Linked DNA regions of Homo sapiens. The protein of the gene in region 1 interacts with the protein of each later gene in a biochemical or structural test. Each region holds a gene or a part of one and is shown on either strand. Other genes may lie near its edges.

Region 1 (3,653 bases):
CCCTCTTTAAAGGTCCTATCCCCAAATATGGCCACATTGTGAGGTACTAGGAGTTAGAACTTCAACGTAGCAATGTTGGGGGACATAATTCAGCCCCTAACAGTCAGCAACAGGGAAAGAGGGAGAAAGGAGGTATGACTGTGCTATGGAGAAATGAAAGCAGACACAGCATTTACAGGGGAAAATAAATTTCATGTGTGTTCCCTCATATCTAGAATTCCCTACCTTTCTTTCCCGATCTCTCCATTCTTTGACACAAGCTCCAATCCCGTATCTGTTCTGAAGCCCTGCTAATCGTCTCAGTCCCAATGGTCCCTCTTTCTTATCCCAAATGCAGAGCACTTCCTATCTATCCTACCCATCTGACCCTTCACCCTACGTGGCCCTTGGGGCAGTTCTTGATGCCTTCTACATTATCAAATTTGAGGCCTCATCTTACACCATCCCTGTGGCTTGCCTAGTTCACACTTACCTTCTGTCAGTTCTTCCTAGGAGGCACATCCCTTCCTGTTTAGGTCAGCCCCTTTGAAATATTCTTCGCCTCTGCCCCTTCCCTGCCCAGCCCCCATTCCCTAATTAATATCATTTCACCCTTAAGATCTCAGCTCAGATGCCTCTTCCTCAGGAAGCTTTTGAAGATCACACACACAATTCACCCTCACGCTAAATGCAGGTCTTTCTTCTATCCTCTCCCCTAGCTTTGTGTCTTAGAACTTACTTAATTACATGCCTGCATTGTTATTATTTTCTTAATGTGTCTCTCCCACAAGATGGACTATACATTCAAAACCTAATGTGTCTCTCCCACAAGATGGACTACACATTCAAAAGCTAAGAATGGTTTGTCTACCATTACCTATCCAGCAGCTAGTGTAGTGCCCGGCACCTAATGAGTGCTTAAGAAGTATTTATTAAATAAAGCAACGAATAAACTAAGTATAAATTAGTATAAATCAGGGGGTCTCATGTGATCTATTTTTTGGATGAATAAATTTGCTGTGAAGTAGAGGCATCATGAAATCATTAAGTAATAATATCTAAACAGAAACATGCACAGATATTAAGAGAACTTAATGTTAAGAGATATTAAGAGAACTTAAAAGAATTTTTTTTTGAGATGGAGTTTCGCTCTTTTTGGCCAGACTGGAGTGCAAGGGTGCGATCTCAGCTCACTGTAAACTCTGCCTCCCAGGTTCAAGCGATTCTCCAGCCTTGGCCTCCTGAGTAGCTGGGGTTATAGGCACGTGCCACCACACCCGGCTAATTTTGTATTTTTAGTAAAGACGGGGTTTCACCATGTTGACCATGGTGGTCTGGAACTCTTGACCTCAAGTGATCCACCCACCTCCTCGGCCTCCCAAACTGCTGGGATTATAGGCGTGAGCCACCACACCTGGCCAGCTTAAGAGAATATTAAAGAGAAGTTAATATCTATGCATATTTATGTTTACATATCATTACTTAATGATTCCTTAAATCATTGGAACTGCGCATAAAAAGCAGAAACTATTAGGTCTAAATTCTATAGGAACTACTTAAAAACCATGCTTTCCTTATCTAATTTATATATATGCATTTTAACTTCTGCAGCTACATTTCTTAGGCCATAGACAGGTATCAGCAGTGTCCCTCTCCCTATGGCTCATTCCACTGCTTGACTTTGGCCTAAAACCAACAGGAATTCTTTACTTAGAGGTAAAAAACTGATGGATTCCCATGGTGATTCCAATCCCACACTCTCCTTTTCTCCTTCAAATTAGGCAGGAAACACTAAAATTTTGGGAACAAGATGTGCGTCACACATTGGAAATGTTCAAATCTGTTGATAACATTCAATATACTTTGGCTAAACGCATGAGGAGGCCACATGGTCACAGCCTAACCAAACACAGAACATAACTAATAAACTGAAGCAACATTCCACGTTATCACTTTCAGCTTTGCACAACATATGGAAACAGGCTCACTGCACCACTTGGTTGTGTCAGAACACTTAAGGGAGGAGGATGCACATTTGGGATTTATTACAGTCACTCACCTAAGGGAAGCGTCCAAAGAAGTGCCTTACAATATCCATGTGGCTTCATGTTACAGAATTCTCACTCTTAAAAGGAGTCTTTTCTAGAAATGTATTGACCTTTCAGGTGTTTGAACTATATGTATGGCCCTGACTGTTCTGAATATTTGAAAGCAAAAGGTACTAGTAACTTACTGAGAAAGCTTTTTTTTAAAAAAGGGGGGTGGGGGGCAGGGGATGGGGGAGGGGTAGCAGGGGGAGGGGTCTTGCTATGTTGTCTAGGCTAGACTTGAACTCCTGGGCTCAAGTGATCCTCCGGCCCCAGCCTCTGGAGTAGCTAGGACTGAAGATGCAAGTAGCTAGGGGCTAGAGGCGAGTGCCACAGTACCTGGCTCGAAAAACTATTTTAAACTAGAAAAAAGGCTGTTCTTTTTCTAAGTATTGCATCAATTGCATCAACTCAGACTACTGAATAGGTTTGTTTTTGTCCTCCATCCTCCCCCAGCAAAGTAACAGACATATTTCCTGTTCCATCCACCTCAACTATTTTATCCCAGTTATAAGGCTCAAGTTTAGTTGAGTTTCTTGGCAAGTAATTTTTCTCATGCTAAAGAAGAAACATGAAGTAAATTAGGAAAAGCATATAAACCAGAAAAATAATACTAACATGATCAAAATCTCCAAATAATTTACCTATGAAGTTCAATTTTGGGAGCTTAGCAGTTCAGATAAATGAGAATTACATAGTCAATTTCCATGTTAGCAAGAAAACTTAAAATTCAAAAGACATTAAGTTGAGTGTTTGAGCCTCTCCTTAAATTCCTCTTTATCAGTGAACAAACATTCAATGCATTCCTCACAACAGGTAAGGCAGTGTCAACAACTAAGATACAGTATTCCAGGAAGCCATGCCTTCCCTAGTCTAATTAACAGGGAAACAAAACCTTTCCAAAGATGCAAATCTACACCTTTATTAAGCTAAACAGACCTACATCAGGTGTCTCAGAAATTATCAACTTGATCACTGGTTCTGGGATTAAAATATTCGAGTCCAAATAAGTAAACTCCATAAAATAAAGGAAATCTAAGAAAAGCACTGTAAGCAGATCAGTTTCACAACATGTGGGCTCCAAATAAGGAAAAGAAAACCTCCCTATCCCAGAGTTCTCACTATCTTTAAATAAATAAATATGTCAAAAGAAACCTGACAGCCTTAATGATGAAACTGTTTTCTGATCAGGTTTTCCAGTGATTAAAATGGTCTATATACTTAAATACTTCCTATCATTTACAAAAGATGAGCCTGAGAAAGTAGTAGGAAAACTATTCTGTTAAAACTGCCTGGTATCCACATCTGCGAATTATGGGAACTAATGCTATCCCAATGGGCAGTTCCTGTATTAAATGAAAGACATCACTTTTGAGTGCTTACTGAAGACATTTGAAAAAAATATTCTCATCTAGATTAATTGTTCTTTAAAAGCAGATTTTACCAGTTTGGCCAATAATTTAGAATTCCTTCTTCTTACAAAAATGAAGTTGTTTTAATTACTGATGCTCTTGACTACTTTTTATTTTTGCAAAAATGAGAAAGCACATTTTATCAGGAATCCATCACCTGCAACATAATTTATAT
Region 2 (3,653 bases), on another chromosome or scaffold:
TGGAGGTTGCGGTGAGCCCCGATCATGCCATTGCTCTCCAGCCTAGGCAAAAGAGCGAAGCTCCGTCTCAAAAAAAAAAAAAAAAAAAAAAAGTCATAGTCCTTGTAATGGGCCCCCAAAAGACGCTCTATATGATGCCCTCACTCCACCTACCTCTCTGACTTATCTTCAGCTGTTCTCTCTCCATCCCCTAACCTTCTCTGTTCCAGACAAAAATTAGCTTCCTTGTAGTTCTTCAACGTGCCAGGCATCCGCTCACCTCAAGGGCTTTGTACTTCCTCTTCCTCCCCAAGATATCCATATGGCTTGCTCCCTCAGCTCCTAAGATCTTCATGTTTTCTCAGTGAAGCCATCATAACTGAAATTGCAAACCCCATTCAACCCTACCCTGCACACTCCCTATCCCCACTCCCTGGCTTTATCTCCACAGCACTACTAACAAATCTCATTTCTACTTATTTTGTTCAGAATTTAAGCTCCATGAGAGGATGGATTTGAGTCTATTTTATGGACTGCTATATCCTCAGCATTTGGAACACTGCCTGGCACAATAGATATTCAATTAATATTTACTGAATTCTGAATCTATTTGATGTTATGAAAAGAGGGAAATAAACGATCAGAATTTCATCGTTAACATCATTAAGGCAGGGTTATTTTCAAGGCAGGATGTGCACATTATGGAAGGAAAACAAAAGGAGCCACTCAGGTATGGGGAAAAATAGTCTAACTTCTACTTATATTTATTTTTAACCAGAAAAATGTTCATATTTAAATAAGCTTTTAGGTATGAAAAACAATAAATGAGAACATTTTATTTACACTGCCTTCACCTAAAAAAAAATACATCATAAACTGTTTCATTCCACAAGCTACAGGGCATACGTTAAAAACAACAACAACAAATAACTTCTCTCTCAGCACAGTAATATACTGAAATAGTCATAAGATGTAAATACAAATCAAATGCTTCCCCAAAATGTGTTAATTAAACCCATGGCCATTTTAGGTAATGTCTCTGGTATTTTAAGACTAGTTTTTTGTTTTGATCATGGCGATGTAAGAGCAAGTGAGAAACTGACATGTTCTTTAGGTTCAAACTAAAACATTTTTAGAGTATTAAAAAGCTCAAGAGGCAATAATGAAGCCTCTGACCTTGGGAAGTCCTTTAACATGTGACCAGAACAAAAGAGGCTGGTCTTCATTTTTTAGGAAAAAAGTTAAGATATTAGGGATGAATAGCAGGAGTAGAAAAATGAGAAAATAACTGGATGGTAAAATTCCTTGAATTCTGGGCTCTCCTCACCTCCATCCTTTAATTTTACCCCAGGTCTTCATGTTTTTAGAAAGCCATAAATTGGGTGACTGGAAAAAAAAGAAAGCCAGGGCCCAAGAGTCCCAATCCACCACTCACCAGTTACACAAAGTAGTAGCAGCTCTGTATCTACTATAAAAAGCTACAGAAAGGCCTCCAAAAGCGTATCCCAAAATAGCTTCAAAATCACTCTCAATACACAGTGGCAGAGATAGGTATGGCATTTACTTTCTCATCTTCAGTTCACCCTCAAAATCAGATATTCTTTGTAAAGAATGTACATATTAAGCACATCATGTGACCTGATCAAGCCTAGATTTAATTGGAACACATTCTAAAATAAGCTTTCGTGTGTAGAAAACATTTTGAAATAGTCCTTATAATATATGCTGCTCTCAAGTTCTAATGGACTGACACAAAAACATGCATAATTATTTCACTAAACTGTTGGTTTCCCTAACAAACCCACAGCATAAACTGTGGGAGGGGAAAAAAGGAATAAAATCCAAACTAAATGAAACAAGTCTGAAATGGCAGCATCTGAAAAAGTCTCAACCACAGAAACTGATGTCAACTTTTTTCCTAAAAAGGCAAAAACTGGCTAGGAAATAAAATCTTTCCGGCCACTATTCAACACATGACTAACTAAAATACCTTCTGGTTTTACACTATTCTTTGGTGGAAAGACAGAGTACAGTATGATTTCTTTAAGTGAAGAAGTAAAGGGCTAAAATTCCTACTGTTTCACTTATCTATCTTTTTTTTTTTTTTTGAGACAAGTCTCGCTCTCTTGCCCAGGCTGCAGTGCAGTGGCACGATCTTGGCTCACTGCAACCTCTGCCTCCTGGGTCCAAGTGAGCACCTGGCTAATTTTTGTATTTTTAGCAGAGACAGGGTTTCACCATGTTAGCCAGGCAGGTCTCGAACTCCTGACTTAAAGTGATCTGCCCGCCTCAGCCTCCCAAAGTGCTGGGATTGTAAGCGTGAGGCACCACGCCCGGCCTTATCTATCTTTTGGCACAAATAATTTACATTGCAGGTGGGATGCCATGGTTCACACCTGTAATCCCTGCACTTTGGGAGGCTGAGGCAGGCAGGGGAATCACTTGAGGCTAGGAGTTCCAGACCAAGCTGGGCAAGCATAGTGAGACCCCATCACTACCAAAAAAAAAAAAAAAAAAAAGTTGACAAATGAGATCACATAGGAAGGCCATAGTTGTTTACAGAAAAACAGAATAACCCTTAAATGAATTTTGTGATTCTATTATGTTTAAAAGCAGTCCAAGGATTGAATCCCAAACAGAAGTGAGTTTAGGGCCATGCATAATAGAAAGCACTGTAGACTATGTTCAGGAAATTAGTTAATGTAGACTATGTTCAGGAAGTTAGTTACTAAAATAGACAGGTAAGTTGGTAAAGGAATAGGGTATGGATTTAAATGTCCACAAAATTAAGTCTAAAGGAAGGTATCTCATCTTATAGAACGCATACAATAGTTAATGCTACAAATATTTTTAAAAGGAATCAAATATCACATCAAATTGATCTAATTATCAACAGATCTACTGGGTCTTGAAGAGCAAACCCTAGACTCACACTACTGTAAACTATACTGTAGTTAGTCAATTATAACAACTGACATTCTGTCAACCTATCTCTATTAACCAGGACTCTTATTTTTAAGTTGAAAAATAATTTGTGCTCAGTACGAAGCAATGACAGGTCTTAGATGCTCTTCTGCAAGGCAATGATTGGAGTATGTACAGTAAAATTTTGGGGTAATAAACAGTATTCTTAGAAAAAGTGCTAATTTGTGTGTGAGAAAAGTTGGTCCAGTTAGTAACTATCTATATCCCAGTGCATCCTGTCTACAGTGATTAGGTTTTTTAGAATATTCTCTGAAACACAAAATTGCAATATATGACCAGTAATATCAACTGTAGATCTTTTAGCTCATCTCAAACAAGAGCTGTCTGATAACTCAGTAACTGCCAATTTCATTACTGAAAAATAAGTGTTAAAAAACTGAGTGATGCTTCAATGATACCTACTCTGTAAACTCCAACCTGTCACTACATCTTTAAGCGATTCTAAAATATTAACAAACAGGGTTCTGGACAAAGTTGTGTGTTATAGAAAAAAAATTTAAATAAAGAAAAAAATTATGAAAAATTTGTAAGATAAAACAAACGGGCTCCTTTTTTGGGATCACTAATAAAGCAAGTCAATTCTTCATTATGTACACAACTGTAAGTTACTTATGAGAATCTGCAAGTTCACCCTCTATATATATAAGTGGGCATTTTTATTTATCACTTTTTTTGTAGAGATGGGTTTC
Region 3 (3,653 bases), on another chromosome or scaffold:
TCAATATAACCTCTTATCGATTCTTTATTAGAATTTTGTCTTAACCCTCCGGAGAGATCCAAAAGCATACAATAGATTCTAACATATCTTCGATGACAAATGCCACTGAAACACTCCACGCTACCTGGTCAAAAGCAGGCGTTAAGTTCAACGATGGTGAAGACAGAGGTCAGGGAGATCCTGAGGGGGGGCAACAACGTGCTCCTCCTCCCATGGCAGCACCCACCAGAATCTACAACAGCTGGCACAGCCGGAGATGTTCTGCACTGTCCCTTACCGCAAAGGCAGGCGGGAGCCACGGGCACTTTCAAGTGCTCCATCCGAGTTCTCAGACACAGCCTAGTTGAAGCCACAGCATACAGGAAAAGGACCCGTCTGTAAATGATGCCTGCCAAAGGGCTCTCCCAGAACATAGCCGGGCCTCAGGGTTTTAATGCTGCCAGAACATTCCAAGTCTCCTATGCAGAAATGTTCCTATCTTCCACCTAGTTCTGGGAGACTGGTTTGAATGTACAGACTTGCATTATCAAAATCAGCACTGTTGCTGACACTAAGACCTCCAATTCTGGGCTACTTTGTAGGTCTGGGGGAAGCCACCCCTTAAGGACAAGCGTTTTTGAGACGGAGTCTTGCTCTGTTGCCCAGGCTGGAGTGCAATGGTGAGATCTCAGCTCACTGCAACCTCTGCCTCCTGGGTTCAAGCGATTCTCCTGCCTTAGCCTCCCAAGTAGCTGGGACTACAGGCACACACCACCACGCCCAGCTAATTTTTTGTATTTTTAGTAGAGACCAGGTTTCACCATGTTGGCCAGGCTGGTCTCAAACTCTTGACCTCAGGTGCTCCACCCACCTTGGCTTCCCAACGTGCTGGGATTACAGGCATGAGCCACCACTTTCAGCCATGGACAAATTTTAGAAGTGACACTTCCAGTGTTTATCACAATGCTGTCAATTCATTTCTTTGTTCCAATAAAAACTGACAAACTCGCTCTTCCAACATAGAACCCTGGAACTCTTTTAAGAAAAGCGCTCACGCCTCTAATCCCAACACCTTGGGAGGCCGAGGCAGGTGGATCACGAGGTCAGGAGTTCAAGGCCAACCTGGCCAAGATGGTGAAACCCTGTGTCTACTAAAAATACAAAAAATTAGCCGGGCATGGTGGCAGGCACCTGTAATCCCAGCTACTCGGGAGGCTGAGGCAGAGAACTGCTTGAACCCGGGAGGTGGAGGTTGCAGTGAGGCGAGATTGTGACACTGCACTCCAGTCTGGGTGACAGAGCGAGACCCTGTCTCAAAATGAGAAAATTATTTTAATTTCATCTCACTCAAGCTTTTCTTTTTTTCTTTTTTTTCTTTTTTTTTTTTGAGACAGAGTCTCGCTCTGTCGCCCAGGCTGGAGTGCAGTGGCGCGATCTCGGCTCACTGCAAGCTCCACCTCCCGGGTTCACGCCATTCTCCTGCCTCAGCATCCCCAGTAGCTGGGACTACAGGTATCCGCCACTGCGCCCAGCTAAATTTTTTGTATTTTTAGTAGAGACGGGGTTTCTTTTCTTTTTTTTTTTTTTTTTTGTTTTTGAGAGGGAGTCTCGCTCTGTCGCCCAGGCTGGAGTGCAGTGGCACGATCTTGGCTCACTGCAAGCTCCGCCTCCCAGGTTCACACCATTCTCCCTGCCTCAGCCTCCCGAGTAGCTGGGACCACAGGTGCCCGCCACCACGCCCGGCTAATTTTTTGTATTTTTAGTAGAGACGAGGTTTCAACGTGTTAGCCAGGATGGTCTCGATCTCCTGACCTCGTGATCCGCCCACCTCGGCCTCCCAAAGTGCTGGGATTACAGGCGTGAGCCACCGTGCCAGGCCACTCAAGCTTTCCTGACTTAACATTCAAAGAGCACATTAGTTTCCACAGCTATCTGGGTTTCATCTATGGGCTACTGTTGAAGATTTGTCCTCCCAAGGACTTCATATGGTGCCAAATCTTTACCATGGGAGAGGATCATCGAGAACCAGTTACAAAAATGCAGCTTCCAAAGAGCCTCTGATCGTATCTGTGGCATGCTTTCGATTTTTAAGAGCCTCTTTTTTGATGGAGAAGAGACACACACGACAGGAGCGAGCAGTTCCACTTTCCACCCGGCGTTCGTGCTATGCCATCTGCCTGTTCCTTCCTTGTTCCTTCTTCGTCCCCAGCTAAATATAGCTTCCCAAAACCCTGTCTAGTGCTTCTGGTACTCACTTCCTAGCATCCCCTCCTCCCGGCCGTCGCTGTCCTGACGCTTCACATACAGAGGCTGTGCTGGCTGACCCTGGCTGGGAGGCTCTATTTCTTCCCCGTCCTCGTAACACTCAAGAGGACCTGAGAGGGCACCACCGGTGTCTCTCCAGGGTCTCTCAGTTTCCTTCCTCACAGGTCACTTGTGTGTTCTGGAGCCTCAGGCTGTCTCCGGTCACCGGCCTATGTTTCCAGTCAACCTGAGCACTGCTTTCCCCTTTCTGACTAACCCAGACTCCCGCGTGCCTGTTACACACGTGGTGCCTTCAACGCCTTTGTTACTCCTGCATCACACACCACTCCCTCCTCGGTGGTAAGTGTAGCCAGGGCTGCTCTTCCCACAGCCTCCTGCCCACTGGTGGAACCATCCACAACAGATGGGTCCACTTTCCATGGAGTAAGACAGGGCGGGCATCTGGACAGCTGAGATCTCACTACAAAAAAGTAGTGTTGTTTCTACTTCGTTTTATTCTCTTCCAAATGCTATCCACCTGGATTTTACTTTCAAGTTTGGAATTTTAAAACACACAGACATTCTGGCCAGGCGCAGTGGCTCACGCCTGTAATCCTGTAAAAGGGTCAGGCAGCCCTGACGTATGAGAACCAGCCTGGCACTCGCAGCTTCGCCCTGGTGGAGGTGTTACTATTGAATAGAATAATCTCGCAGAACACTAACATCAGAGAAGGTCACCTGTGTGACTGTGCTGAAATAGGACCAAAAGTAAGTAAACTTTAAAAAAAACAACTCATAATCGTTTCTAAGTAGTGACAAATCCAAGATCATCATACAAACCACAAAAATCACCAAATATCCCCTGCTCCCGGCCAGTAAGAGTGAGGGCCGAATTCCCACAGTCCCCAGGTGCGTGTTTCCCTCGCGGCGAAGAGTAACAACTCTAGTTCTGCGGAACCACATGTGTGTGCCTGGTGCTCTCTGGCTGCACTTGTAACAGCCAACCTCACAAAAGCTGAGGCCTTTTGAAACTCAAAACTGCCAAGCTGAACACCACAGTTTTTCTTTTTATCTACCATCACAGGAGTCTAGCCCACCACTTTAAAACCTCTAGCACTGGCCAGGCGTAGTGGCTCACGCCTGTAATCCCAGCACTTTGGGAGGCAGAGGCAGGCGGATCACCTGAGGTCAGGAGTTGGAGACCAGCCTGACCAAAGTGGAGAAACCCCCGTCTCTACTAAAAATACAAAATTTGTAATCCCAGCACTTGGGGAGGCCAAGGCGGGCGGATCACAAGCTCAGGAGATCAAGACCATCCTGGCTAACATGGTGAAACCCCGTCTCTACTAAAAATATAAAAAATTAGTCAGGTGTGGTGGCGGGCGCCTGTAGTCCCAGCTACTTGGGAGGCTGAGGCAGGAGAATGGCGT

What was found.
Region 2: the proteins of SH3RF1 (region 1) and UBE2N form a complex in vitro, tested with the Homo sapiens proteins (2 studies listed by BioGRID).
Region 3: the proteins of SH3RF1 (region 1) and RAC1 form a complex in vitro, tested with the Homo sapiens proteins (one study listed by IntAct).

Annotation. Positions count from the first base shown.
Region 1 is NC_000004.12:169,264,377-169,268,029, forward strand, and holds part of SH3RF1 (E3 ubiquitin-protein ligase SH3RF1), read right to left. Parts: intron 1-3,653. UniProt on the Homo sapiens protein: Has E3 ubiquitin-protein ligase activity. In the absence of an external substrate, it can catalyze self-ubiquitination. Stimulates ubiquitination of potassium channel KCNJ1, enhancing it's dynamin-dependent and clathrin-independent endocytosis.
Region 2 is NC_000012.12:93,414,380-93,418,032, forward strand, and holds part of UBE2N (ubiquitin-conjugating enzyme E2 N), read right to left. Parts: intron 1-3,653. UniProt on the Homo sapiens protein: The UBE2V1-UBE2N and UBE2V2-UBE2N heterodimers catalyze the synthesis of non-canonical 'Lys-63'-linked polyubiquitin chains. This type of polyubiquitination does not lead to protein degradation by the proteasome.
Region 3 is NC_000007.14:6,394,954-6,398,606, reverse strand, and holds part of RAC1 (ras-related C3 botulinum toxin substrate 1), read right to left. Parts: intron 1-3,653. UniProt on the Homo sapiens protein: Plasma membrane-associated small GTPase which cycles between active GTP-bound and inactive GDP-bound states.